Regions from separate parts of the Homo sapiens genome. Here regions 1, 2, 3, 4, 5 and 7 are each reported to be linked to region 6. The links are microRNA targets in miRTarBase. Many come from high-throughput screens and were not tested one by one. Region 6 holds a microRNA gene; each other region holds the end of a gene's coding sequence. Distances are from middle to middle.

Region 1 (4,111 bases), not on the chromosome of region 6:
TGGCTTCAGCTTTTCCTGTAGGGAATAACTAGCACTAGCACATATAGCCCATAGGACAATAGCAACACCTCACAGCCATGCTCTAACAGTCAATAGTTATATATGAAAAGCATTTACCAAGATGCCTGGCACATTTAAAATACTCCATATTGTGATTATTATTTTTATTATGTGCTAGCATGGCCTTAAGGCTCATAATTACATAACTTAAAGAGGTAAGTGATATGGCTTGGATGTTTGTCCCCTCCAAATCTCATGGTGAAATGTAATCCCCAGTGTTGAAGGTGGGGCCTGGTGGGAGGTATCTGGGTACACCCCTCATGAATGGCTTAACACTATCTCCTTGGTGATGAGTGCATTCTCCCTCAGTTCACATGAGATCTGGTTGTTTGAGTCTGGGACCTCCTCATTCTCTCACCATGTGATACACCAGCTTCCCCTTTGCCTGCCACCACAATTGTAAGCTTCCTGAAGCCCTCACCAGGAGCAGATGCTGGTGCCATGCTTCCTATACAGCCTGTAGAACTGTAAGCCAACTAAACCTCTTTCCCTTATAAATTACCCAGCCTCTGGTATTTCTTTATAGAAACACAAGAACAGATTAATAAAGATAGATAAGGGAATCTTCATAATGTATATAATTAAATATCTTTTTGGATTTTACATTTATCATGGAAGCTCTCAAAACAATGAATACAGATAAACATTTTTTTCTTCCAATGAGAAATCTCTACAACATTTCTGGTACTATGGAAATTTAATATTTTGTTTAACAGACCTACTACATTTACAGAAAGCCAAACACAGTAAATTTTTAAAATTAAAAATGTTTTATTGGCTATTGCCTTTAATAGATTTACTACAATAAAGGAAAGGAATATTTTTCTCAAATGTGCTAATAAGAAAAAGACCCAGGAAACTGAACGATATTGGACACAGTTTTCAGTGTTTTAGACATAAATAAACTCATGAATTTCATATGGATTCTGGAATATTTACCACTACTCCCCTAACGATGCATTTAGCATAGAACAAAAATATGAACATTTGAACAAGTCCAATCTAACACATTTCAAAACAATCAGATCTTTGGAAAACTGTTTTCCATAAGTACCCCTTGCCATTCATGGAAGAGTTATGAGGATGCCCATGAATTTATTCATGGACACTCCCATACTAAGAAAAAGAAAACCATGTAGATGGGTAATATAATTTGACTATTTGTTCCCGCCCAAACCTCAAGTTGAAATGTAATCCCCAATACTGGAGGTGGGGCCTGGTGGGAGGTGTTTGGAGCACAAAGGTGGATCCCTCATGAATGGCCTGGGCCATCCCCTTGGTGATAAGTGACTTCTTGCTCTGAGTCTTGTTCCTGCTTTTGTCATGTGATGTGCCTGCTCCCCCTTCACCTTCTGTCATGACTATAAGCTTCCGGAGGCCTCCCCAGAAACCAAGCAGATGCCAGTACCATGCTTCCTGTAAAGCCTGCAGAGCCATGAGCCAATTAAACCTCTTTTCTTTACAGATTACCCAGTCTTGTGGATCATGAGGTCAGGAGATCGAGACCATCCTGGCTCATACGGTGAAACCCCATCTCTACTAAAAATATAAAAAATTAGCCAGGCATGGTGGCGGGCGCCTGTAGTCCCAGCTACTCGGGAGGCTGAGGCAGGAGAATGGCATGAACCCAGGAGGTGGAGGTTGCATAGAGCCGAGATCGCGCCACTGCACTCCAGCCTGGGCGACAGAGCAAGGCTCCGTCTCAAAAAAAACCCCAAAAAACCAAAAAACCAAATTACCCAGTCTCAGGTATTTCTTTATAGCAATCCAAGAACGGCCTAATACAATGGGCTCCCAACACATAAAACATACAGCAGCCACAAAATAATTAGAAACAATGTTAAGTAATGCCCACTAAATTTTGAATAGCAAAATATAGCATAGAAGTATAAAACAAATGTATTTCTTATCCCTACAAAAAAAGGGGCATCTTTTTGGTTTTGTTATTGCTGTTTGTATAAAAACTATGGTGTGTGCATGTGGGTGTATGTGTATTCCTTATAGAAAACTTGAAAAATACAGAGGTAACTTAGAAAGAATTACCTTCCCCTACCAGCCTCAGGATCTCCTGATACCAATTCAATAACCACTTAAAAACCCACAGGCCAAACCTCTCTTTAGGCTCTCAAATATCTCTACTGTTGCCTGTCTCCCAGGATGACAACTAGGGCTATTAAGGCTATGACTCTAATCTAAAACTTTTTGTTCTTCCAATTTTAGAGCTAGACAGTATCTTAAAAGTTCATTCATTCCTATCCATTATGCCTGTCCCTATTTATTCAGCAGGAAGCAGCCATGGAGAAGTTAAGTGAATTGCCCAGGAGTCATATCTGAGCAGGATGGAGACTAACCCTCTAATCGTTAGGCCAGGCAGGGCTCTGTCCAAGTGAACACATTGAGAATGAATCTTCACAAGAGATAGGTCTTCAGTTATTACGTAGTTAGACTATTAATGAGCCTGGAAGGCAGACCACAATGGATCTGTACAACCAGAAGAAAGCAGCTGGGCAAACTTCTGGCTCCTAACAGGCAATTACATTGGCTCTAAAAAGAAGTTGCAAATAGGCCATGTGGTCAAATGAAGGAGTGTGACCTGGGACAGATGATCATCACAGGAGCAATGTTCAAGCCCCACATTCCAGGGATATCCAAGCCCAGTTAAGTCACAAGAGCCATTTCTGATTGGCTGCACTGCCAGGGCAGGGTGGAAGACAAAAGTATCCAGAAGAGTCTCCTGAGAGTATGAGGGTGAACTAAAGGAAACCCTCAAACCAGCCAGATTTCTTCTCAAATCAACAGGCATATGTCCAGAGCCCATTCGTCTCACACCATTTCCCCTCAAGCCTCAATCCAATTCATGGGTCCCTCAGAATCTCATCACTCCCACTTCAAGGCTGTGCCCTCACAGTTAAAGCTTTTGTCTTTGACTAAATGAATCTCTATCAACTAAAAGAATTAGTCTAGAAGTCTTAAAGGTCACAGTTCAATTCTCTCTGATCAATCCAGGTCATTTAAGTCTTTTGAGGAAATCTCTTCACCCTCATGTGGGCAGTTTGGTACAAAGATTCTTTATTTAAGCAGACCTTATATCCAAATATAAATAATTAAAGCTCAGATTATTTCTTCTTCACGTCTTCCCATGTTACAACAGTGGTACAGGCTCAGTGTGAAGAGTGAGACTTGTATTTGCAAGATCTCAAGATGCTTGCCTGTGGATGAGCTCTTTCAACTGTGCCAGTTTGTCACTTTTTAGTGCTTCCCGGATGTAATGGAAAAACCCAAAGTAGTGTTCAAAGTTGTGCATCATAAGCAGGACTCCGGCCAGCAGCTCATTGGTCACCAGCAGATGGTGGATGTATGCCCGAGTGTGATTCTTACAGCAGTAACAGGAACATCCTCTCACCAGCGGGTTAAAGTCCTCCTGGTACCTAAGAAAGAAGTCACAGTGACATTCCAGAAAGTACGGAATACAAGAAATCCACAACCTCAGCTATCTATTCTGCTGGTAAAGTTACCAGTGGTTAATAACATCACTGGCAAATGTTCAGTGCTGTGCACCTGCTTAAAATGGCAATATGGTTAAAAGTTAACAAAGGGCCGGGTGTGGTGGCTCATGCCTGTAATCCCAGCATTTTGGGAGGCCGGGGCAGGCGGATCACGAGGTCAGGAGTTCAAGACCAGCCTGGCCAATATGGCGAAACCCCGTCTGTACTAAAAATACAAAAATTAGCCAGGCATGGTGGCGCGTGCCTGTAGTCCCAGCTACTCGGGAGGCTGAGGCAGGAGAATCGCTTGAACCCAGGGGGCAGAGGTTGTGGTGAGCCAAGATCGCACCACTGCACTCCAGCCTGGGCAACAGAGCGAGACTCCATCTCAAAAAAGAAAAAAAAAAGTTAACAAAGAACACAATGAGTCAGGGAGACCCTGGAGTTTTTCTCTGACTGATGCAAACTCCGAGTCTGGGGTTACAAAGGAGCATCAGAAGAAATTCATGTGGTCGCTCACTCATGTTGAGTATTACTAATCACATTGTAAAAGCACATAATGTTAG
Region 2 (4,111 bases), not on the chromosome of region 6:
CTTAAGATAGTTCAGGTCTCTCCCCTGAGTCTGTGTCCGCACCTCCCCCAGGACTCTGTCAGAGGTGTTTGAACCAGAGCGACTCCATTTTGAGTGCGGGCTAGGAAAATGAGGCTGAGACTTGCTGGGCTGCATTCTGAGAAATGTAGGCAATTCCGAGCCTCCAGATGTTTACGGTTAAGGGAACAAATTATTAACAGTTACTAAACAGACCCACACTTGGGAGTGTCCAGATATCCTGATATCTGGAGAACAAAGGCATTCCTAGTTTTGCTTTAAAGATAATATCAATTCTTGCAAAATAATGAAGAGAATGAATCCTTCATCACAAACCCTTGTAGCAGAGCACGTCTCCCCATATATGTGAGCATTGGACCTAGGGTGGATGCGTTCCTCCTAACGTCAGGAGCGTCCAACACTGTCTGTGGAGTAGCTGTCCTTTCGCCACTTTTTCTGTTTTTGAGATGGAGCCTCCCTCTGTCGCCCAGGCTGGAGTGCAGTGGTGTGATCTCAGCTCACTGCAACCTCTGCCTCCCGGGTTCAAGTGATTCTCCTGGCTCAGCCTCTCGAGTAGCTGGACTGCAGATGTGTGCCCACACACCTGGCTAATTTTGTATTTATAGTAGAGATGGGGTCTTGCCATGTTGGCCAGGCTGGTCTTGAACTCCCGACCTCAGGTGATCTACCCACCTCGGCCTCCCAAAGTGCTGGGATTACAGGCGTGAGCCACCGCACCTGGTCCCACCACTTTACTTTCTTAATAAAGTTGCTTTTGCTTTGCACTGAGGACTTGTCCTGAATTCTTTCTTGTGTGAGATCCAAGAACTCTCTCCTGGGGTCTGGATTGGCACCCCTTTCCTGTAACAACTCTACTCTGGGCCCTGACCCCGTCCCCAGGACCAGTCCGCTCACCTCCCTCCCGCGCTGTCCCTGCTGTGGGCACCGCTAGGGTTTAGCAGAGGTCCAGTCTGCTGGCGGGGTTCCTTCTTGAATAGGTCGTGTTTGAATATCCAACAAAGAGACCTGCTCATCTTTGATTTTATTAATATTTGATTGACAAATAATAATTGTATTATATTGATGGAGTACAATGTGATGTTCTGATACATGTATACAATGTGGAAGGATTAAATCAAGCTAATTAACATATCCATCACCTCGCTCCCTTATCCTCCTTCTTTGTGGTGAGACATCTGAAATCAGCCTTGTTATTGTGATTTAAATTTAATCATCCTGGTGACTGTCTAGAGTGACAGCACATTGTGGTTTTACTCTACAGTTCCTTGAGGAGCAATGACATTGAATACATTTTCACTTACTTATTGGCCATTTGGTGGTCTTCTGTTGAGACGTGCTGAAGTTTTCTCCCCTTTAAATTGATTTTTTTTTCAACTTGAGGGATTCTTTATATTTTCTATGAGAGTTCCTTTGTCAGGTGTACCTTAGAGCAAACATCTTCTTCCAGTCCTGTTTCTTGTCTTTTCCCTATCTTAACAGCATCATTTGATGAACAGAACTTTGTACTTTTGATGAAGTGTAACAACTTTTTATGTTTGCTGTGTTTTGTGTACTAAGAAATCATTGCGTAACCCACGGCTGTGCCAATAATCTCTTAATGTTTTCTTCTAGAAGACTCAATGGTCTTTTCCAGACTCATTGCACCCACAGGGAGTTTTCTTGTAAAAATTCACTAATGGCAACACAAATGGTAGTAATGATCATAAAAACAACAATAGTTATTATTTATTAAAATTACACAATATTCCAGTTACACTTTCAAAGACTTTACATGTACCAAACATTTAATTTCCATGATAGCAGTCTCAGGTAGATGTGATTATCCTTATGTACAAATAATGCACATAGTGTCTGTGTGCTGGACAACGCACAGGGGTAGTGAGCCTTTGGCCCAGTGTCTCACAGGGAGGAGGGCGGGGGATGGTGGGGACAACTGGTAGAGTGGGTGGCATGACCAAAGGCTTTCTCACGTGTTACATTAGCAGGGTTATTCCACAGATGCCACGGAGTAAAGACAGAATGGTACTGGTAGTCTTTATGTATTCATTAAACTAACCCACACAATAAAAACATCTACACCAAAAACAAGATCATTCAGAAAAAGTGATTTTTCCACTCTTCAAATTTGCCTCTAGAATGACTTCTGATATTCTGTAAGCAGAAGAGTGATCAGTGGGCTAGGTGCAGTGGCTCACGCCTGTAATCCTAGCACTTTGGGAGGGCAAGGTGGGTGGATCACCTGAGGTCAGGAGTTGAGACCAGCCTGGACAACATGGTGAAAACTGTCTCTACTAAAAATACAAAAATTAGCCAGGTGTGGTGGTGCATGTCTGTAATCCCAGCTACTGGGGAGGCTGAGGCAGGAGAATTGCTGGAACCTGGGAGGTGGAGGTTGCAGTGAGCCAAGACCGTGCCACTGCACTCCAGCCTGGGCAAGAGTGAGACTCTGTCTCAAAAAAACAAAAACAAAAACAAAAACAACAGTGATCAGTGAAGCCTTACGTTAAACTGTACCAGGAATTTTCCTCCTGTTGAGGAAGGAATGGATGTAGTCTAGAGGCCTTCCTATATTCTTTGTACAGCAGTCCCCTCTCACCTGAGGGGGGTACGTTTGAAGACCCGCAGTGGACACCTGAAACCACAGATAGTACGTTTTTTTCCTGTACATATATACGATACTATATACTACATTTTTTCCTGTACATACATATCTAAAGTTTAATTTATAAATTAGGCACAGTAAGAGATTACCAACAGTAACTAACAAAATAGAACAATTGTAACAATATATGTAATAAAATTATGTGAACGTATCTCTCTCCCAAAATATCTTATTGTCATGTAGATCTTAGCAACCTCAGTATATGATTTTTTTCTTTTCTTTTTTAAGTTGAGAACTTTCACCTTTTCATTTAAAAGGAAGCACTTTGTGGCTTCTCTTTGGCATATCCGAATCACCAGCATCACTACTCCTGCTCTCTGGGGCCACTGTTAAGCAAAGTGAGGACTGCTTGGGCACAGGCACTGTGATGCTGGGATAGTTGATCTGATCACCAAGACGGCTACTAAGTCACTAGCAGGGTGGGTGGCGTATACAGCGTGGATGTGCTGGACCAAGGGATGACTCACATCCCCGGCCGGCTGGAGCCGGACAGCGAGAGATTTCATCACGCTACTCAGAAGGGCACACCATTTGAGACTTAAAATTCTTTATTTCTGGAATTTTCCATTTAATATTTTTGAACTGCAGTTGACTGCAGGTAACAAACTGTGGAAAGCGAAACCATAGATACGAGCGGGCTACTGCGTTCAAAAGGCTCTTCAACTGTTGTGGATCCTCTGATGTTCTCGGAGATGGTTTAGGTGGTTACATGCCTTCCCGCACTCCTTACATTCGTAGGATTTCGCCCCACTGTGCGTTTTCTGATGTTGTGTAAGCTGATGGCCGTGACTAAAGCTCTTCCCACATTCTGTACACCCATAGGGTTTCACCCCGGTATGAATTCTCTCATGTTTCACGAGGCTCGATCCATAAATGAAAGCCTTCCCACACTCCTTACATTTATACGGGGTTTCGCCTGTGTGGATTCTCTCGTGCTGAGTGAGGTGATAGCCACAATTGAAGGCCTTCCCACATTCTGTGCACTTGTACGGCTTCTCGCCCGTATGTATCCTCTCGTGCTTAACGAGGCTCGAACCCCAGCGAAAGGCCTTCCCACACTCCTTACATTCGTGAGGCTTCTCACCGGTGTGGATCTTCTGATGCTGAGTAAGGTAATTGACTCGAGTAAAGGCCTTCCCACATTCTTGACATTCATAGGGTTTCTCACCTGTGTGAATTCTTTTATGCTGAATGAGGCTTGAACCACAAATAAAAGCCTTCCCACAGTCTTTACACTCGTAAGGCTTCTCCCCACTATGAATTCTCTTGTGCTGAATAAGTTTATACACACGGCTAAAGGTCTTCCCACAGTCTTTGCATTCGTAGTCTTTCTCCCCAGTGTGGAATCTCTGGTGCTGAGTGAGCTCATCACCACGCCGAAAGGCCTTTCCACAGTCTTTACATTCATAGGGTTTTTCACCAGTATGAATC
Region 3 (4,111 bases), 100 Mb from region 6:
ATCGTCTCTTTCGCCCTCACAGTAGCCGCAGCGCTGTAAACAGTGTTCCCATTTTGCAGATGAGAAACTGAGACTCAAATCACTTTTTTCCAAAGTCATAACATTAGCACTGGAGCTAGATTTTGAACCCACATCTCACAGACTTTTAGAGCTTGAAGGTTTAACTTCTGCCCCATGTTCCCATCTCTGAAGTTTAACAAAGACAGAGTGGCTGCTTTTAAAATCTATGCCTTTGCTATGGATTTTAAAGGGTGTAGCGGAGAGACTGAAAGCGGGCTTGGATTTTTATAAGTTGTTGAAGGTGGTGATAATTCTAGAGTGTAGGCACGGAGGGGGCCAGCAGGCAAGAGGCAATGGGACTGTAATGAAACAATCCCAAGTCTGGTGGGTTGGTTTGGGGCTGCTGCAGGGAGGCACGGGGGCAGTGAGGCTGGAACTCTGAGAGGCAGCCCCGGAGGTAAACCTCCATTCCTGACGGCACTCTTTTTTTGAGCATGGAAGAAGTCAGAACACGCGTTACCCCTTGTGTTAGCTCTCTGCATGAGTTCAGAGTATCCCTGGGTCTGAATTAAACAAATGACATTTTACAGATAGATTTTACAGATACGTTATGAGTCGATATTTCTTAAAGCATGTCTACCTTCCATAATGCCAGAATTCCTCCTTTTCCTTTGTGAGGTGAAGATGAATGTTAGAGTAGAAAGAATTGTAAACTCCTTGGTAGGTTTAAGCAGTTATCAAGTACCTTGAATGTGAGTAGTAAATTCTCACCCAAGGGCAAGGGTAGACCTTTTGAGATAGAAAGGGTGGATATTGGGATCCCGGAGCCCCAAATCCCCTGAGGTTGTCTTGGTGAGAGTGCCACGGGGTACCCTGTTTCTGGCAGGTTTTTCTTGGTGTTTGGGCAGCATGGTGCATCTCCCATGGTGTGAGCGTGGCTGGGAGCCCTCTTGGCTGTTACTACATCCAGCCTTTGTCTCTCCAGGGATGGGGGCCTGAAGAGGGAGAAGGTGAAGGACACGTTCAAGGAGGAGCAGCAGAAGCTGTACAGCAAGATGATCGTGGGGAACCACAAGGACAGGAGCCGCTCCTGAGCCTGCCTCCAGCTGGCTGGGGCCACCGTGCGGGGTGCCAACGGGCTCAGAGCTGGAGTTGCCGCCGCCGCCCCCACTGCTGTGTCCTTTCCAGACTCCAGGGCTCCCCGGGCTGCTCTGGATCCCAGGACTCCGGCTTTCGCCGAGCCGCAGCGGGATCCCTGTGCACCCGGCGCAGCCTACCCTTGGTGGTCTAAACGGATGCTGCTGGGTGTTGCGACCCAGGACGAGATGCCTTGTTTCTTTTACAATAAGTCGTTGGAGGAATGCCATTAAAGTGAACTCCCCACCTTTGCACGCTGTGCGGGCTGAGTGGTTGGGGAGATGTGGCCATGGTCTTGTGCTAGAGATGGCGGTACAAGAGTCTGTTATGCAAGCCCGTGTGCCAGGGATGTGCTGGGGGCGGCCACCCGCTCTCCAGGAAAGGCACAGCTGAGGCACTGTGGCTGGCTTCGGCCTCAACATCGCCCCCAGCCTTGGAGCTCTGCAGACATGATAGGAAGGAAACTGTCATCTGCAGGGGCTTTCAGCAAAATGAAGGGTTAGATTTTTATGCTGCTGCTGATGGGGTTACTAAAGGGAGGGGAAGAGGCCAGGTGGGCCGCTGACTGGGCCATGGGGAGAACGTGTGTTCGTACTCCAGGCTAACCCTGAACTCCCCATGTGATGCGCGCTTTGTTGAATGTGTGTCTCGGTTTCCCCATCTGTAATATGAGTCGGGGGGAATGGTGGTGATTCCTACCTCACAGGGCTGTTGTGGGGATTAAAGTGCTGCGGGTGAGTGAAGGACACATCACGTTCAGTGTTTCAAGTACAGGCCCACAAAACGGGGCACGGCAGGCCTGAGCTCAGAGCTGCTGCACTGGGCTTTGGATTTGTTCTTGTGAGTAAATAAAACTGGCTGGTGAATGAACTGGGGGACTTCTCCCTTTACTTTCTCCCCTGGCTGTGGCCCTGAGTAGCAGGCTTCTCGTGAGGATTCCCGTTCTCTTCTGGGAGCATGGCCCTGGGGCTGCGGAGAAGCCAACTGACTGCTGGAGCGAGGAACCCTGCAGCTCAGAAGGTGAACAGCTCGTCTCAGATGCTTGCAGATCTTTGGTTAATTTAGAATTTCCAGCACAGACGTGGATTTCTCCAGAGACGGGGTGTGTGCGGGTCGCTGATGTGAGGCCTAGGGGAAGCAATGAGTAAACTCCAGGGTGGGGGAGGAGCAAGGGCCCGGGGAGGGCTGCAGAGGGGCCGGGGCGGGGCAGGGCCTGTGCTGCATGGTGGCTTCTGCAGGGGAGGGACAGGGGAGGGCTGCAGAGGGGCAGGGTGGGCAGGGCATGTGCTGCATGGCAGCTTCTGCACAGCCAGAGCAGGCACCACAGGAAAAGAGTCGGCCACTGGTGCCTGCTGTACAGTCACAGTGGAGGCAGAGCCAAGGCCAAGCAGCCCCTGTGGGTTCTGGGGTTTCACCAGTTTCATGCTCCTCAGCTCCCCATTCATGCCCCACCAGCCCTCACTTGGGACCCATGCTCCCTCGTGGCACAGTCATGATGCCTCTCAGGATTTTGTGCCTGTGGTGCTGAGTGTCACGTCCCCAAGGTCGCCCTCTGGCCTGCAGTTCAGGGAGTGGGTGGGAGTGAAGCTGTGCTCCTGGGGCTGCAGACAGATCCACTTTGCATGTGGTACCTGCTGGGTTGGCCCTGCAATCTCCTTTTCTCTGCACCTACCTGTGACCTCCCTGGGAGAGCCTCCCATTTCCTCACCTGCCCTGTTGCCAGCCCGGGGGAAATCTTTTTGCTCTCAAATGAAGACTGAAAAAATAAAGTCAGTGTTATGACTAATAAGTCTCTTAGGAACTGTTTTACAAAATGCTTAAGAATAAAAAGTGATTTTCAGCTTTTATAGGTGATGTTTACAGTGTTTGTAAACCAACTGGAGGGATCAGTAATTGGTCTTAAAAGATCAGGTTCTCTTTTAAAAAGTTCATCTGAAACTTTATGGTTTGTTACTTTCGTGATTTGCATAGGTATTTATATATACACACACACACAGGTTTTGCTTTTGTCTCACATTCAGCACAGCTGTCTGCGGCCCCTGCCGGCAGGTGTGGCCGCACCTGGTGTGAAGTCACGTGGAGTCAGTGCTGTGGAGGGAAGTCCTGTGCGGGCCGGGCAGTGAGGAGAGCACTGATTCACGCCTGCAGAAACGTAACCTCCCCTTTCCGTGTATGCCTTTTACCATCATCCAGGCGACTGCTCCATCCTTTTAAATTAGGGGTCCTGCAAGCCCCAAGTGACCCATAGTCAGAGTATCTGGTTTGGGGTAACCGAGTTGGTCTTATGGGGCAAAAACTCAAGACACTTAGAAACATGCAAAGTACAAAATAATGTGTTCCCTCCTGTTACCCCAGCAAGGGTGGGGCTGAGCTGGGAATGACACCCAGTGGTGTAATGAGTGGAAAGTGCTGGTCAGCTGCTAACCCCCCTCCAAGCCTGCTGCACCTTCACTTCTCTGCATCCGTCTCCTGAGTCATAACTAGGGACTTGGCTAGATGACCTCAGAGACCTCGTCCACCTCTGAATTCTCTGTTTTTAAGCCCATAGTTCAAACTTTGGCTTTGATCTCTGAAGTCTTCTGGGTTTGGAAATACGGGAAGTCAGCTTTGAATCCATTGCTTCTCTAAAACATCAGGGCTAGTGGAACTAACCCACTTGAGGGTGACCTCAAGGGCTTTAGGCAGCCATGGGGCTGGGGCCATACTGCTCTCAGGCTGGGCAGTATCTTCATTGTGGTTCTCAGACAGCCTTTTTTACTCAAACATGAGACTTTCCACCCACCAGTTAGGGAACTTTTTTTTTTTTTTTAAACACGGAGTTTCACTCTTGTTGCCCATGCTGGAGTGCAATGGCACAATCTCAGCTCCACTGCAACCTCTACCTCCCGGGTTCAAGTGATTCTTCTGCCTCAGCCTCCAAGTAGCTGAGATTACAGGCATGCACCACCACACCCAGCTAATTTTTTGTATTTAG
Region 4 (4,111 bases), not on the chromosome of region 6:
AGGGATGGGTCAGGCTTTGTGATGAGAAATAGCCAGAGGCAGGAGGACATAGAGGTGTGGACTTTAGGATGGAGTCTGGGCTGGACACATTTGCAAGCCTGTGGATGGCATTTAAAGCCCTGAGCCTGGATGAGCTCACAGGGAAGCCACAAGTGGGTGTGGAGGGAGAAGCGGCCCAAACACTGAGCCCAGGGCCCCAGGACACAAAGAGGGGAGGGGAGGGGAGGTGCAGCAGCCAGCGGGGAGGATGCCTGAGAGCGCCTGGTGGGGTCTGGCAACCTGAGCCAGTGAGGACCCCTCACAGGTCAGGGAGTGGCAGTGGCCGGCTCCATCTTCCAGTGCTGCTGCTGGTGAAGGATGGTGACCTGCAGAACACTCACTGGGTCTGGCGAGGGTCACGGGGTCCTGGCGCGAGGGAGGCTTGGGCTAGGAGGTAATGGGAGGGGGAATCCAGCACGGCGAGTCCAGAGTCCAGGTCACTCTAGGGACAGGCCGCACCCTAGCTGTGGAGAGGAGGAGGAGAAAGTGCTGTCGTCGGAGGGGCATTTGGGGCTGGGGAGAGCTGGTGGGTTTGTACAGGGGCTGCGGGGGAGGACGGAGGGATGAGGCGTGTGGGAGGGAGGAGCCCAGCTGGGAAGTGGGGACTTTGCATGGCAGGAGCTGCGCCCCCTACAGAGCCCAGCTCCAGGGGACTCCTCTCCCCCAGATTCTCACGGCTCTGGACCGAGATGCCTCTTGTCGGAAGCATAAGTTGCGGCAGAAACTGGAACAGATCATCAGCCTCGTGTCCAGCGACAGCTAAGGTGGTGGAATCGGTGAGGAGGGGGCTTCTCAGTCCTGTGCCGTCCTCCCATCCAGGGGAGTGGCTGGCTCAAGCCTGGGTCCCCGGGCTGAGCCCTGGATTGGGTATCGTGGGGCAGGTCACCCTGGCCACGATGCCCCCGGCACACCCAGGCCCCCTTCATTAGTGCCTTGCTTTGGGCCCTGCAGGGGGAGGGGTGACAGGGCGAGCCCCCACCCCAGCAGCAGCAATACCCCCACCCTCCTGCCCTGTGCCCAGGTGTTGGGACAGTCCCACCCTCCCTGCTATTTATATCCCTCTGCCTATTTATTGAATCGAACTTCGCCTCTGTCTCCATCTGTAAATATGTGTCCCCCCACCGGATGTCGCCACCCTCACTCACCTGCCTCTTCTTGAGCTGTCCTGGGCCCTGCCACCCGTCTGGGCTCCTTTGTGTAGCATTATCAGCCTCGGTCTGGCCTCTGGCACCTCACCCTTGCCATGGCTGACCCCACCCATTCCAAGGCGGGGTCACGGTACCAGCAGCACTTGGGGTGAGGCCTCCAAAGCTTCCTCAGAATTGTGGCTGTGCCACGCTGGACCACAGGGTCCCCCTCAAGCATCTCGGGGCCCTATTCTCTCTGAGCACCTGGAGGGCTGGACTCAGGCTTGTGCCAGGGCCTGACTTGGGCCTGGGGGCCCTAGAACGCTCCTCCTCCTGAGCCTACTGCCAAACGTCCTCAGTGTTGTCTGCACCTGCTCCGACTCCTTCAGCCGCCCCATTCAGCGCCCGCTCCGTCCAGTGCCCGCCCTGTGGGGCCAAGGCGGCCGTGCCTTACTACTCTGTGTCTTCTGCCTCCTCTGAGGAATCTGGCCCTGTCTGACAGTCCCAGACCCCCCGTTCTCTCCTCTTTAGTTGCATGAGTTTTTCTTTGTTCATGGAATGTTTTTTCCTGATTAAATGTTGGGGAAATGCCATCCATGTGGGGCTCTGTCCTTGGGGCAGGTCAGTAGACCTGTGGATGCTGCATGAGCTGGAGCCCCATTGTGGGAGAAAGGACCACTCCTTGCAGGGTCCCAGAGGGTTTGGGGAGGTTCAGGGCCATACCCGACCCATCAGCAAACCCCGGTGGCTCTACCTTCAAGACAGATTCAAGGTAGATAGATTCTCCTCCCTTCCACCACCCCCACCCAGCTCTCCTGTGCCATCGTCTATCTCTGCCTGGATGCCAGTCTCCCTGCTTCTGCCCTGGCTCTCTTCAGCCTGTTCTCAGCGTGGGAGGCAGAGAGATCCTGTTATGATATAAGGTGGATCATGTTGCCTCACTGTTTAGAACCCTCCGGCGGTTTCAGCTGCAGCCAGCTCCTTCAAAACCTGACAATTGCATACTGTCGAGGTTGTGGCACCCATCATGGTGCACCTACCAAAGTCTTACTCCCAGGCCTGTTAAGTAATGCAGGTGGGGAGAAGGTGACATGCAATTTATTTATTTATTTATTTTGAGACAGAGTGTAGCTGTGTTGCCCAGGCTGGAGTGCAGTGGCAAGATCACAGCTCAGTGCAGTCTCAAACTCCTGGGCTCAAGTGATCCTCCCACCTCAGCCTCCTGAATAGCTGGGTGTATTAGTGCACTCTACTATGCCAGGCTTTTTTTTTTTTTTTTTTTGAGATAGGTTGCCGCTATGTTGTTCAGGCTGGTCTTGAATTCCTGGTCTCAAGTGATCCTCACCCCTCAGCCTCCCAAAGTATTGGGATTACAGGCATGAGCCACTGTGCCCGGCCAGGTGAGATGGAATCTTATTTTTACTTTTTATGTTTTTTTTTTTTTCTTTGACGGAGTGTCGCTCTGTCGCCCAGGCTGGAGTGCAGTGGCATGATCTCGGCTCACTGCAAGCTCCGCCTCCCAGGTTCACGCCATTCTCCTGCCTCAGCCTCCCGAATAGCTGGAACTACAGGTGCCCACCACCACGCCCGGCTAATTTTTTGTATTTTTAGTAGAGACGGGGTTTTACTGTGTTAGCCAGGATGGTCTCGATCTCCTGACCTCGTGATCCACCTGCCTCAGCCTCCCAAAGTGCTGGGATTACAGGCGTGAGCCACCATGCCTGACCTTTTTTTTTTTTTTTTTTTTTTTTTTTTTTGGAGACGGGATCTTGCCCTGTTGCCCACGCTGGAGTGCAGTGGCAAAATCAACTCACTGCAGCCTTGATGTCCTGGGCTCAAGTGATCTTCCTGCCTCAGCCTTCTGAGTAGCTAGGATTACAAGTGCTTGCCACCATACCCAGCTGTTTTTTGTTTTTTTTTTTTTTCTTTAGTAGAGATGGAGTCTTGCTGGTTTTGAACCTCCTGGGCTCAAGTGATCCTCCTGTTTTGGCCTCCCAAAATTCTGGGATTACAGTTGTGAGCCACTGTGCCCAGCCAAGTGAGATGCAATTTTTTTTTTTTTTTTTTTTGAGACAGAGTTTCACTCTTGTTGCCCAGGCTGGAGTGCAATGGTATGATCTTGGCTCACCGCAACCTCCGCCTCCCGGGTTCAAGTGATTCTCCTGCCTCAGCCTCCTGAGTAGCTGAGATTACAGGCATGTGCCACCACGCCCAGCTAATTTTGTATTTTTAGTAGACACAGGGTTTCTCCATGTTGGTCAGGCTGGTCTCGAGCTCCCGACCTCAGGTGATCCGCCCGCCTCAGCCTCCCAAAGTGCTGGGATTACAGGCATGAGCCACTGTTCCTGGCCTTTCTTCTTTTTTTGTTTTTGTTTTTTTTTGAGATGCAATTTTAAATAGGGTGGCTTGGACAGCCACCTGAGTTGGGTTTAAAAGCTGCCAGCTCCAGCCGTCCAGCTGTGGGGCCACGGTGCCAGACAGTGGTGGTGGTTATAGGACCGTAGGTGTTTACCAAAACTAGACAAGTCCACATAACAACCAACTGCACAAATAAGGAGTAAAATAATAAAGAGAAGGACGTGTGAGGCAGGACTGGATTGTAGCCCAGGATAAAGAGAAGTTGCGGGATGACAGCTGTGCCGTCGGCCCAGACAGAACCATCTGGACAGAGGACAGAGGATAAGGGAGATGGTTGAAAATACTACCATCATATGATAATGACAACTAAGCCACAGGAAAACAAGGCAGTTTTAACCTCAGGGGAAATCCCTCAGAAATGGATGGAATCTACCAGAAGCATCATGAGAGGAAGAGGAAGGGAAACAGAGCTAAATTGGGGCCAGGTGTGGTGGCTCGCACTTGTCATCCCAGCACTTTTGGAGGCCCAGGCGGGAAGATCACTGGAGCCCAGGAGTTCAGGACCAGCCTGGGCAACAAAGCGAGAT
Region 5 (4,024 bases), 120 Mb from region 6:
CAGAGTCAGGGGGCGCTGGCCGGCAGGCTGCGGAGCTTCTCCATGCAGGACCTGCGCTCCATCTCTGACGCACCTGCCCCTGCCTACCATGACCCCCTCTACCTGGAGGACCAGGTGTCCCACCGGAGGCCACCCATTGGTGAGCGGGCAGAGGGGCCCAGAGCCATGCCAGGAGGGATGGCTTCCTTCACTCACACCATGGCTTCCCCCAAGGCTCGAGGAAGGGCTGGCCTGGTCGCAGGCTTTCAGCTTCACCTCCTCCTCCACACAGGGTACCGGGCCGGGGGCCTGCAGGACAGCGACACCGAGGATGAGTGTTGGTCAGATACTGAGGCAGTCCCCCGGGCGCCAGCCCGGCCCCGAGAGAAGCCCCTAATCCGCAGCCAGAGCCTGCGTGTGGTCAAGAGGAAGCCACCGGTGCGGGAGGTCAGTGTGGGAGGACGACAGGAGGGAGGAGGGCTCTGCTGGCTGGTGCTCCCCACACCCTCATGCTGTGCCTCCCCTTTCCCCAGGGCACCTCGCGCTCCCTGAAGGTTCGGACGAGGAAAAAGACTGTGCCCTCAGACGTGGACAGCTAGGGTCTGCTGCATCTGCCCCCTTCTTACCTCGTGCCCTGCAGGGCTCCAGGGCTATTTGGAGGGACCTTGGGCTGCACATCTGGCCTGCCTGCACCAGCTGCCTGGGCCCCACCCTCCTGACTCCTGCTGATGGTTAAGGGCCGGGAGCAGATGCTGCCAAGGCCACATGCAGGGATGCACCCACAATGTACCAAAGCAGGCTGGGCCCAGGGTTCTATTTATTGCCTTGCTCTGCCCTCTCCCTTCCCCGGTTGTGGGACAAGAGCCCTCCCTGAACCCCTGCAACCCTCCCTGAACCCCTGCAAATGAAACCAAACGTCCACCTGGGTGTGTTCATTCCTTCCTGTCCTTCAAAGTACTTGATAGCCTTTCATAAGGCCTGGCACATGTGTCCTGGTTGTGTGTGTGTGTGTTGGTGAGTGAGGTCAGGTTTGCGAGTGTTTTGATAAATAAATACATAAAGGGGCTCTGTTTCTCCTGATTCTTACTCCCGTTGCTCGCCTCACACCCTTGAAATGGGACAGCCCAGTCCTAGCCTAGGTCTAAGGCTGAAGGAGCCCAGTCCTCTGGGGGAGACAGAACCATTGACAGAGAGTTGTGATGCAGCACATGGTTTCACGAAGGAGCTTTTGGGGAGTTTTGAGAGCACTGATGGGAAAGTGGGGACGAGTCCAGAGGACTGGTCAGAACCCGAAACTTCAGTTAGGCCTTGGCAGGAAGGTGCAGCTATAGAGAAACCAGTGGGAGCACAGGCAGGAGGGGCTTGGGGCAGCACGTTAGTCCCATAGGGAGGTCGAAGCTAGGCAGAGGAGACCTGGGGAGGAGTATCTCCTCCAGGAGCCTGGAAGAAGGAGCCCCCTGGGGCAGCTCTGGGGACATTAAGTTCTGTAAACAGTCAGGTACCCGCAGGGGCACCATTGCACCTCTGAGGAGTGGCCACGAGAGGGCAGCAGTGTCTGGGATCTGGGCTGCCCCCGGCTTCCAGGTCAAGGAGGGTGGGGTTGGGAGACTGGCCAGAGCCTCGCCCTGCTGGGCCTGGCGGAACTCAGTGGCCCTCCCTGCTGCTTGTGGTCACTGGTCCTTGGCCTGCCCCATCCAAGGAGTCTCTGCTCTCCTGAGACCAAGGCTGTTTGCCTGGCTGGCTCCACTCCAACTCCTCCGATCCCTGGGGCAACCGGGGTACCCAGCTCTGCCCTCTACTGCCCCGGTGCTGGTCTCACCATGATGCCCGGGGTGCGCCCCTCTGCCACTGCTGCACCTGCTCCTCCTCCCTGCTTTTGATTGATTAAGCAAAGAGGTGGGTGAGAGTGTGGGATGAGAAGAGGGGAAATGGGGTGGTAACCTGGAGTGGCCCCAGAGAGTGTGGATTAACTCTTGGTGTGGGGATTATCCAGGTTTTATTTGGGGGAGGCTCTTAATCTGCTGCGGTGATTTAGCTTCTCACGTATAGGGGCTCACTGGCGTCCAACATGGCCTGCCTTTGCATCGTGGGGTTGTCTTATCGCTTCATTAATTCATTCAAAAATGAATCTTTATTGAGCCTCGAGCAGGTACCAGACATGTTGCCAGACACTGCAGGGATGCAGGCAGTAGTAACGGCTGGCGCCCAGAGTGTGGCTGCCCACGCAGACGCTGCTCTAAGCCCCTGGCATATATTAATTTAATTCTCATAACGATCTTTGGGGGGTGGGTACACACTAGTCTTACAGTCTCCATTTTCCAAACAGGAAAACAGGCACAGAGAGGGCAAGTGATTTGCCCAAGGTCACATAGCTAGTACATAGCAGAAGGGCTTGGAATCAGGCAGTCTGGCTCCAGAGTCTGTGCACTTAATCACTAAGCAGTACCAGAGTGAAGGAGATGATTCCTGCCTGGGAGGCAAGGACATGGAGACTAACATGTATGGAATATTTGTTGTGTGCCTGACCTTGTGCTGGGCATTTTACAGAGATGATTTCCTTGAATCCTCCCAACAAGCCTGTCAAATAGGGACTATATCCATTTTTTAAAACAGGTTCTCACTGAATCACCCATGCTAGAATACAGTGGAATGATCATAGTACACTGCAGCCTCGAACTCCCGGACTTAAGGGATCCTCCCACCTCAGCCTCCTGAGTAGCTTGGACTGCGGGCACTCTCCATCACACCTGGCTAATTACCATATTTTTTTGGTAAAGACGGGGTCTCACTATGTTGCCCAAGCTGTTCTTGAATTCTGGGGCTCAAGTGATCCATCTGCCTTGAACTCTGAAAGTGCTGGGATTACAGGCATGAGCCACTGCACCCACAGGGCTATACCCATTTTACAGATGAAAAACCGAGGCTTGGAGAGCCACAACAACTTGTGTACCATTGTGCTGCTTGTGAGTCGGGGACCCTGACTCCTGATGCACCTCTGCCTGGGAGTTGCGTTGATAGAGGCGGGCTGGCAGGATCCATGTACCCAAACCAAGAGAACAAAACCAGAGGGGCGCCGGGCACAGTGGCTCACCCTTGTAATCCCAGCACTTTGGGAGGCTGAGGCGGATGGATCACCTGAGGTCAGGAGTTCGAGACCAGCTGGCCAACATGGTGAAAACCTGTCTCTACTAAAAAAAACAAAAATTAGCCGGGCATGGTGGCGCGTGCCTGTAATCCAAGCTACTTGGGAGGCTGAGGCACAAGAATCGCTTGAGCCCGGGAGGCAGATGTTGCAGTGAGCCGAGATTGCACCACTGCACTCTAGCCTGGGTGACATAGCAAGACTCCATCTCCAGAAAAAAAAAAAAAATAACAAACCCAGAAGGGCATATGATGAATGGCAAAACAAAACGGAGTAAAAGAAAACAAGAGTTGGGGAGAGGCCTGAAGTCGTGGGGTGGTGAGGGAGATTTCACTGGGGTGGGGGCTTCACTTGCCCTCCCTCCTAGGATGGGTGCTTGGAGGGGGCCACACGGCCACCCAGGCCCCTTGGCAGAGCTTGCGATGCCTTGTCCTCACCATCTCATCAGACTGTCTCATGGCTCCGTGTGGCCCTATGCGTGCTGGCCTCTGACATGCTCTTCCTCCACCATCCAACTCTGTCCCATTTCTACTTGCCCTTTGAACCCCACTGAGACATCACCTCCACTGGAAGCCCTCCGCAAGCACTCCCTCACCTCGGAGTGGTTTGCTGTCTGGACCACACCACCTCTGTTCTTGCACAGACTTCTGTTGTTGCCTTGAGCATGTGACCTTTTCTCCCCCACTGTGTTGTGACTTCATAAAGGACAGACGTATTTTACACACTGTTGTAGCTCAGCCTGGAACAAATGGTCTAACCGAAGTGAAATACTTTTGTAACTTCGCGACTGGGTGGTGAAGTCCTGATCTCATTCTCTGATCTCCTCCATGAAGTTCCCCTGACTTCCCCAGGGTGGGACTAGAAGCATCTTGTAATCATTCATGAACAAGCCCAACACCCCCA
Region 6 (4,111 bases):
GGGCTGGGGCCCGGGGCCGCGTGGCGCGTTTCCGCTACTTCGAGGATATTTATGGCTACTCAGGGGTAGGCCAGCGCCTTTGCAGGGGTCTGTGGTAGAAGGGAGACGCGGCCTCATCCGCAGCATCCTCATCCACAGCATCCTCACGGTGCCTGCCCCCAGGTCTTCATCTGCGGCCCCTCCCCTCACTGGCTCTTGGTGACCGGCCGAGGGGCTCTGCGGCTACACCCCATGGCCATCGACGGCCCGGTCGACTCTTTCGCTCCATTCCACAATGTCAACTGTCCCCGCGGCTTCCTGTACTTCAACAGACAGGTGGGGCCCGGCCGGTTCCCAGCAGCACTGGCTGATGCTGCCCCAGCTGGGGGCTGAGGGGGAGGGGACAGGAGAAGGGACCATTGGCTCCACCCTGAGGACCAGGAAGGAGTGTCCAGAGGGCGATGGGGTTGAGGTCGAGGAGGTGGAACCTGTGACTTGGTTGCTCCAAAGGTCTGGAAAGGGGTGGTTGGGAGCTGGGGCTGCAGCCCCTGGGGTCCCCACCACTGCTCTGCCGGCTCGCCGGGCAAGCCCTCGCAGGGCCTGGCCTCCACACTTCTCAGGAGAGCTGACGTGAGTGCTAGCTCTGCCCCTTGGCTGCTCTGTGACTTTGGGAGGGCACACAGGCTTTCTCATCCTGGTTCCCTATTTAAGCCACCACACCACCAGGTCACTTGAGACCCTGCCTGGGATGCGGTGAGTGCTTCCTGGGTGCCTGAGGACTCAGGACTGTCCATGAAAGAGGGCAGCCCTGGCTCCCTCTGCCTGGTTTTCAGTCCCCAGCATGGCAGTCTGTGGGCTGCCCTTTGCAGCCTCCAGTGCCCTCCTGGCCTAGCTTTCCCATCCCCTGTGGCCAGCACCCCTAGCCCCAGCTGAGCGTGGGAAAATGGACAGGAGGAGCCCCAGAGGCTGAGTGGCAGCCCCTTCCAGGACCTCGCCAGGACACAGCTGCCCCTCACCCACCCCTGCTCCCACAGAGCTGAGGGCAACATCCCAGGGCTCTTGGCGGCCTGGGCCTGCCTGCCCCTGCCCTTGGCTAGCCCTGGATCCCCTGACCCCTGTGCCCCCACCCCAGGGCGAGCTGAGGATCAGTGTCCTGCCTGCCTACCTGTCCTATGATGCCCCATGGCCTGTCAGGAAGATCCCGCTGCGCTGCACGGCCCACTATGTGGCTTACCACGTGGAGTCTAAGGTCTGCCCCCACCCCCACCCCACCAGGGACCTTCTGGGCCTGGCCGGGCCACTGGTGTGTGACCCTCACTAACCCACAGGTGTATGCTGTGGCCACCAGCACCAACACGCCGTGTGCCCGCATCCCACGCATGACTGGCGAGGAGAAGGAGTTTGAGACCATCGAGAGAGGTGGTGACGCCCACACCATACTCCCATCCTCAGCCGCATCTTGGGGAAGCCCTACTCTGACTGTCACCCTTGGTCCCCACAGATGAGCGGTACATCCACCCCCAGCAGGAGGCCTTCTCCATCCAGCTCATCTCCCCGGTCAGCTGGGAGGCTATTCCCAATGCCAGGTGAGGCTGGGCCGGCGGGGGTGGGGTCTGCCCAAGGCCTCCAGGCAGCATCCTGAGGCCCCTGGCCCCCACAGGATCGAGCTGCAGGAGTGGGAGCATGTGACCTGCATGAAGACAGTGTCTCTGCGCAGTGAGGAGACCGTGTCGGGCCTCAAAGGCTACGTGGCCGCCGGGACCTGCCTCATGCAGGGGGAGGAGGTCACGTGCCGAGGGCGGGTAAGGGGCCAGTGAGCGGGGGCGGGAACTGGCAGCCCCTCTGCCATCCCCACAGCCATCCCACAGCCATACCCATGCCCTCCAGATCTTGATCATGGATGTGATTGAGGTGGTGCCCGAGCCTGGCCAGCCCTTGACCAAGAACAAGTTCAAAGTCCTTTACGAGAAGGAGCAGAAGGGGCCCGTGACCGCCCTGTGCCACTGCAATGGCCACCTGGTGTCGGCCATCGGCCAGAAGGTGTGCCAGTCCCACCCGGCGTGTGTCCCCCGGCTCACCCTCACCCGGCTCCCCGTCCGCGCCCGCTCACCCTCGCCCTCGCCCCCAGATTTTCCTGTGGAGCCTGCGGGCCAGCGAGCTGACGGGCATGGCCTTCATCGACACGCAGCTCTACATACACCAGATGATCAGCGTCAAGAACTTCATCCTGGCAGCCGACGTCATGAAGAGCATTTCGCTGCTGCGCTACCAGGAGGAAAGCAAGACGCTGAGCCTGGTGTCGCGGGTACACCTGTGGCGGCGGTGCTCGTGTCTGGGTGGGTACCCGCCCAAGGCACCTCTGACGCCCCCTTCCCGCCCCCAGGATGCCAAGCCCCTGGAGGTGTACAGCGTGGACTTCATGGTGGACAATGCCCAGCTGGGTTTTCTGGGTATGTGGGCAGGGCCCTGGGGAGCTGAGGCTCTGGGGGTGGCCGGGGCTGACCCTGGGCCTCTGCTCCCCAGTGTCTGACCGCGACCGCAACCTCATGGTGTACATGTACCTGCCCGAAGGTGAGTGCTTCCTCCACCCCCTCTGCCTGGGCCGGGGCTGGGCTAGCAGTGACCCCTAGGCCTTTCTGGTCTAGCCAAGGAGAGTTTCGGGGGCATGCGCCTGCTGCGTCGGGCAGACTTCCACGTGGGTGCCCACGTGAACACGTTCTGGAGGACCCCGTGCCGGGGGGCCACTGAAGGGCTCAGCAAAAAGTCGGTCGTGTGGGAGAATAAGCACATCACGTGGTTTGGTGAGTGTGGGGGAGCAGGTGTGTCTGGGTGGGGGGCCCTAGGGTTGGCCTGGCTCACACCAAAACCCTCACCCTACCCCTGCCAGCCACCCTGGACGGCGGCATCGGGCTGCTGCTGCCCATGCAGGAGAAGACCTACCGGCGGCTGCTGATGCTGCAGAACGCGCTGACCACCATGCTGCCACACCACGCCGGCCTCAACCCCCGCGCCTTCCGGTGAGCCCCGGCCCCGCCCCCGTGCAGCACCCCCTCCACCCCAGCCTGCCCTGACACCTGTGCCTGTACGCCCCAGGATGCTGCACGTGGACCGCCGCACCCTCCAGAATGCCGTGCGCAACGTGCTGGATGGGGAGCTGCTCAACCGCTACCTGTACCTGAGCACCATGGAGCGCAGCGAGCTAGCCAAGAAGATCGGCACCACACCAGACATAGTGAGTGCGCGCCCCGCCCCCCGCGCGCCCCGCCCCTCCGTGTGCATCCCCACCCACCCACCCACCCACCCTTCCATCCCCTGCAGATCCTGGACGACTTGCTGGAGACGGACCGCGTCACCGCCCACTTCTAGCCCCGTGGATGCCGTCACCACCAGCACACGGAACTACCTCCCACCCCCTTTTTGTACAAAACACAAGGAAAAACATTTTTTGCTTGAGAGGAGTGTGTGGTCATTACACGGCCTCCTGGCCCAGCTGCTGTCACAGCCCCCCAGTGCGAGTGCCCACGGGGCTCGGGGTGTCTACACCTCTAGCCCCGCCACCTCCGTCAGCCCAAGGTGAAAAGGGCCCCGCCGGCCCTGGGCGGCTGCACCCTAGGTCTCCAGGTACTGGTAGAGCTCCTCCGCTGGGGGCACGAGGCTCAGGTGGACCAGAGCACGAGCCAGGAGGGCGGTCAGCCGCATGGCCAAGGTCTCCAGCCTGCGTGGGTCAGGTCACAGGTCACAGGTGGGTGGGGAGCAGGCCCCCGCCACCCACCTGCCCCGCGGCCACTCACCTGAGCGCCACTTCAAACTTGAGCATCTCCCAGACGACCTTGGCGTGGCGCAGGAGGCTGGTGCCGTAGACACCCCGATACGTGGCGCCCGCCAGGCGGCTCCAGCCCCGGACAGCCCTGCACACACCCGCGTTAGCGCCGCGTCAGCCCCACACCAGCCCCACCACGGCCCGGGCGCCTCCTCGGGCCACCGACCTTTTAGCCATAAGGAAGTAGCGGTCCACGGGGGCGCCGAGGGCCACGTTGATAGCGCGCACGGTGTTGATGTTGCGCAGCACCAGCAGCATGGGCCGCGGCAGCTCCCTGAGCACCGCCATGACGGCCTCGAAGCGCTCGCGGGC
Region 7 (4,111 bases), not on the chromosome of region 6:
CTCATTAAAGCAGCTGGTGTAAATGTTGAACCTTTCTGGCCTGGCGTGTTTGCAAAGGCCCTAGCCAATGTCAGCATCGGGAACCCCATCTGCAATGTAAGGGCTGGTGGACTTGCAGCAGCTGGAGATCCTACCCCCTCCACTGCTGCTGCTTCAGTTGAGAAGAAAGTGGAAGCAAAGAAAGAAGAATCCGAGGAATCTGATGAGGACATGGGCTTTGGTCTTTTTGACTAAACCTCTTTTACAGCATATTCAATAAAAACCTAAACTTTGAAAAAAAGAAATAACCTTAAAAATTGAAGCACTGCTTTCTGTATGGCAGTAGGATGCAACACAAGCCAGAAATCTGAGTGGTTTCCAAATGTTAAAGAAACAACTATTGGCTGGGCGTGGTAGCTCATGCCTGTAATCCCAACACTTTGGGAGGCTGAGGCAGGTGGATCACCTGAGGTCAGGAGTTTGAGACCAGCCTGGCCAACATGGTGAAACCCTGTCTCTACTAAAAATACAAAAAAATTAGCTGGGTGTGGTGGCGTGTGCTTGTAATCCCAGCCACTTGGGAGGCTGAAGCAGGAGAATCGCTTGAACTCGGGAGGCGGAGGTTGCAGTGAGCTGAGATGGTGCCATTGCATTCCAGCCTAGGCAACAAAAGTGAAAACTCCGTCTTAAAAAAAAAGAAAAAGAAAAAAAAAAACAACTATTGCTAAAAAACCAGGAAGGTGTGGGGAAGAAACAATCTTGATGAAGATAAAGTAGCTTCAGGCATCAACGCCCTTTAAAAGGCATAACTTTTGCTAGAAAAATTGGCAATATTTACATTAATATGTGGCATTTAAGTATTCAGAATAATTATCTTTCTTAATGTACTATTTCTAAAATCACCTCCCATAAATTGTCTTAGGGTCAATATCCAATTACCTTTTAAAAATATTTTTCTTGGCTATAGCATTTTTATGAAAAAACATTCAAGATTTAAAAATATAATCACTTGAAGCTCATTAAGGACTGCCAAAAATCTAATTTTATTTTTGCATCCTTTATAAATAAAAAGCAACCGATAACCACTTTCCTCTTAGATCCAACTTCAATGACCACATTCTCAGAACTACCAAAAGACTTCAAGTACACTGTCTGTAAGGAACAGTTTATAATTGCTGAATTTTACATTTTTGCTTAATATACAACATTTCTGCTTAATATATCAAGCATATTTTTGCTTAATATATTTTTGTAAACTATAGTTAACTCTTGGAATGTCTAAACTACCTTATTTTCTTCATTAATAAAAATGAGTAATTTAAAACTTCATGCACATGTAACATTTTACTATTATTATTTTTGAGACAAAGTCTTGCTCTGTCACCCAGGCTGGAGTGCAGTGGCACGATCTCGACTCACTGCAACCTCTGCCTCCTGGGTTCAAGTGATTCTCCTGCCTCGGCCTCCCAAATAGCTGAGATTACAGGCATGCACCACAATGCCCGGCTAATTTTTTGTATTTTTTTTTTTTTTTTTGAGAGGGAGTCTCGCTCTGTCGCCAGGCTGGAGTGCAGTGGCGTGATCTCGGCTCACTGCAACCTCCACCTCCTGGGTTCAAGTGATTCTCCTGCCTCAGCCTCCCTAGTAGTTGGGACTACAGGCATGCGCCACCACGCCCAGCTAATTTTTGTATTTTTAATAGAGACAGGGTTTCACCATGTTGGCCAGGATGGTCTCGATCTCTTGACCTTGTGATCCACCCGCCTCCACCTCCCAAAGTGCTGGGATTACAGGTGTGAGCCACCGCGCCCGGCTAATTTTTTGTATTTTTTGTATTTTTAGTTGAGATGGGGTTTCACCATGTAGACCAGGTTGGTTTTGAACTCCTGACCTCAAATGATCTACCTGTCTCAGCCTCCCAGAGTGCTGGGATTACACACATGAGCCACTGCGCCGGCATATGTAACATTTTAAATACCTGACTTCCTTAACATAAGGTAAGACAGTCTTAGGCAGGCTGCCACTGGGAATGTTTTTTTCTTTTTCTTTTTTAAATTAGAGACAGGGTCTCACTACATTGCCTAGATTGGTCTCAAACTCCTGGGCTCAAGCAATCTTCCTCTCTTGGCCTCCCAAAGTGTTGGGATTGCAGGTGTGCGCCACTAGGCCCAGCTTGAAAAATTTTTTAATGCATGTGGTAATCCACAGGAGATCACATTTAGTATATGACCAAGTTAATTAAGAAGTCAAAAAACACGTTAAATTTAAGCAGAATAAGGCTGGGTTCGGTGGCTCATGCCTGTGATCCCAGCACTTTGGGAGGCAGAGGTGGGCAGATCATTAGGCCAGGAGTTCGAGACCAGCCTGGACAACATGGCGAAAGTCTTTACTAAAAATACAAAAATCAGCTGGGCGTGGTGGTACACACCTGTGATCCCAGCTACTCAGGAGGCTTAGGCACATGATCGCTTGAACCTGGGAGATGGAAGCTGCAGTAAGCTGAGATCCTGCCACTGTACTCCAGCCTGGGTGACAGATCAAGACTCTAACTAAAAAACCCCCCAAAAAACAAATAGTTACTTGGAAAACTTCCGACATTTATTTACTTCTGGACAAACAAATGAGTGGGAAGAATCATCAGTATACACCTCTTAATTGTATTTTTTTTTTTTTTTGAGACAGAGTCTTGCTCTGTCGCCCAGGCTGGAGTACAGTGGTACGATCTCAGCTCACTGCAACCTTTGCCTCCCGGGTTCAGGTGATTCTCCTGCCTCAGCCTCCCGAGTAGCCGGGATTATAGGCATGGAGAACCACACCTGGCTAGTTTTTGTATTTTTAGTAGAGATGAAGTTTCACCATGTTGGCCTGGCTGGTCTCAAACTTCTGACCTCAAGTGATCTGCCCGCCTTGGTCTCCTAAAGTGTTGGGATTACAGGCGTGAGCCACCGTGCCTGGCCAATGTTAGTTTTTATCCTTAAAATTGCCTGAGTTCTTAGAACACAGAAAAAACAAATTTGAATGCATTTCTAACAGCTTAATAATTTATATGTCCCATTATGATTTTAGCGGAATGTTTTAAAGCAAAGCATAATTCACTGCAAAGATAAACCTGAAAAAGCAAACAAACTTACAAATGGTATGTTATGACCTAGACAAAACTGATTATCAACTAGTAATACTCATAATTAGCACATGCAACAGATTGAGAAATTAAATCCTGTGCTATATACTCTTAAGTATTTTGTCAGATATATCTTTAAATGTTCTATCAATTGCATTCCTTTCCACACATATTTTAAACAAGAAAACAATTGTCTTTCCTCCAGATTCTCATGTTTATCAGTGCAAAACGTTGCAATCTCAGTAAAAATGGTTTATTACAATGTTATTTTAGAAAGGCTTAGTCCTCAAACTGTTGAAAATGTACTTAAAAGATGTCCAAATCATGAGAATGATCAACTTCAATGGCTTCCTCTGCCTCCAACTTGGCTTCTGCATGTCCTTCCTGTGACTCATCAAGAGAGGCCAAGGCCTCATTCGTGTCACTTGCAAAAGTTTCTCGTGATGTATCATCATCTTCTTGAAAATTTAGACTTTTAATAGCTTGTTTCATCTTTTTCCCCAACACTTGTGTTCTCCTCTTCCTAGCAGCTTTTTTATTTTCATATTCCTTTTGGTTTTCAATGTAGAAAATGTCCTGTAATAAAGGAACAAAGTTAGTAAACAAGAACTACCACGTTATTAAAGGTTTATTCCATGACTGTCCCTTTAAAATCATTATCTCCATTTCTTACAAAAAATACAAGTATTATTAGGCTCATTATTAAGATGGAGTTCAAGATATTAAGTAAGTACTCATTGCAAGATTGAAACTGATTTAAACCCAGCCTAGTGTTAGGTTTAGGGCCCATGCTTATTCTACCTTAATGTATCATCTCTACAGTTAAAAATTTCCTAAATGAAGGCTGGGCATGGTGACTCATGCCTGTAATCCCAGCACTTTGGGAGGCGGAGGTGGGTGGTTCACTTGAGGTCAGGAGTTGCAGACCAGCCTGGCCAACATGGTGAAACCCTGTCTCTCCTAAAAATACAAAAAGTAGCCGGCTGTGGTGGCACACACCTGTAGTCTCAG

The links. The annotated mature microRNA hsa-miR-939-3p reads CCCUGGGCCUCUGCUCCCCAG and lies in region 6 at 2,482-2,502, shown strand. An mRNA with a match to its seed (bases 2 to 7 or 8) in the 3' UTR can be bound and repressed. Matches are read on the target gene's strand: a 7mer-m8 pairs with bases 2 to 8, a 7mer-A1 pairs with bases 2 to 7 and ends in A, and an 8mer does both.
Region 1: the mRNA of QTRT2 is a reported target of hsa-miR-939-3p. Seed matches in the 3' UTR shown: 7mer-m8 at 1,737-1,743 and 7mer-m8 at 1,323-1,329.
Region 2: miRTarBase lists ZNF331 as a target of hsa-miR-939-3p. Seed matches in the 3' UTR shown: 7mer-m8 at 2,446-2,452.
Region 3: the mRNA of GPAT4 is a reported target of hsa-miR-939-3p. Seed matches in the 3' UTR shown: 7mer-A1 at 1,218-1,224 and 7mer-A1 at 1,315-1,321.
Region 4: miRTarBase lists PLXNA3 as a target of hsa-miR-939-3p. Seed matches in the 3' UTR shown: 7mer-m8 at 1,055-1,061, 7mer-m8 at 2,305-2,311, 7mer-m8 at 2,634-2,640, 7mer-m8 at 3,258-3,264, 8mer at 3,769-3,776, 7mer-m8 at 4,049-4,055 and 1 more.
Region 5: miRTarBase lists REEP4 as a target of hsa-miR-939-3p. Seed matches in the 3' UTR shown: 7mer-m8 at 783-789.
Region 7: the mRNA of PHAX is a reported target of hsa-miR-939-3p. Seed matches in the 3' UTR shown: 8mer at 2,078-2,085, 7mer-A1 at 1,586-1,592 and 7mer-A1 at 1,412-1,418.

What each region holds. Positions count from the first base shown.
Region 1 is chr3:114,085,050-114,089,160 of GRCh38, reverse strand. QTRT2 (queuine tRNA-ribosyltransferase accessory subunit 2) reads right to left here. Exons shown (of 10, transcript NM_024638.4): 10 at 739-3,488. The coding sequence ends at 3,257. Among named protein-coding and RNA genes, the nearest start is that of QTRT2, 30 kb to the right of the region's middle.
Region 2 is chr19:53,577,181-53,581,291 of GRCh38, reverse strand. ZNF331 (zinc finger protein 331) reads right to left here. Exons shown (of 6, transcript NM_001079906.2): 6 at 1,023-4,111. The coding sequence ends at 3,340. Among named protein-coding and RNA genes, the nearest start is that of ZNF331, 41 kb to the right of the region's middle. RefSeq lists an enhancer at 3,237-4,111.
Region 3 is chr8:41,619,908-41,624,018 of GRCh38, forward strand. GPAT4 (glycerol-3-phosphate acyltransferase 4) reads left to right here. Exons shown (of 13, transcript NM_178819.4): 13 at 986-4,111. The coding sequence ends at 1,094. Among named protein-coding and RNA genes, the nearest start is that of NKX6-3, 29 kb to the right of the region's middle. RefSeq lists an enhancer at 3,094-3,193.
Region 4 is chrX:154,471,884-154,475,994 of GRCh38, forward strand. PLXNA3 (plexin A3) reads left to right here. Exons shown (of 33, transcript NM_017514.5): 33 at 707-4,111. The coding sequence ends at 802. Among named protein-coding and RNA genes, the nearest start is that of LAGE3, 5.3 kb to the right of the region's middle. RefSeq lists an enhancer at 323-617.
Region 5 is chr8:22,135,041-22,139,064 of GRCh38, reverse strand. It overlaps REEP4 (receptor accessory protein 4), which reads left to right. Exons shown (of 8, transcript NM_025232.4): 6 at 4-139; 7 at 272-426; 8 at 513-1,045. The coding sequence ends at 578. Among named protein-coding and RNA genes, the nearest start is that of REEP4, 4.9 kb to the left of the region's middle.
Region 6 is chr8:144,392,552-144,396,662 of GRCh38, reverse strand. MIR939 (microRNA 939) reads left to right here and starts at 2,433; the gene lies at 2,433-2,514. It overlaps CPSF1 (cleavage and polyadenylation specific factor 1), which reads left to right. Exons shown (of 38, transcript NM_013291.3): 25 at 1-65; 26 at 163-315; 27 at 1,112-1,228; 28 at 1,308-1,398; 29 at 1,481-1,565; 30 at 1,640-1,781; 31 at 1,867-2,019; 32 at 2,108-2,284; 33 at 2,363-2,429; 34 at 2,503-2,550; 35 at 2,625-2,780; 36 at 2,867-2,996; 37 at 3,073-3,211; 38 at 3,298-3,432. The coding sequence ends at 3,345. ADCK5 (aarF domain containing kinase 5) reads right to left here. Exons shown (of 15, transcript NM_174922.5): 13 at 3,966-4,111; 14 at 3,771-3,887; 15 at 3,421-3,694. The coding sequence ends at 3,589. RefSeq lists silencers at 755-968, 2,321-2,482.
Region 7 is chr5:126,624,140-126,628,250 of GRCh38, reverse strand. It overlaps PHAX (phosphorylated adaptor for RNA export), which reads right to left. Exons shown (of 5, transcript NM_032177.4): 5 at 999-3,676. The coding sequence ends at 3,407. It also overlaps the pseudogene RPLP1P7. Among named protein-coding and RNA genes, the nearest start is that of SPMIP10, 5.5 kb to the left of the region's middle. RefSeq lists a silencer at 3,248-3,448.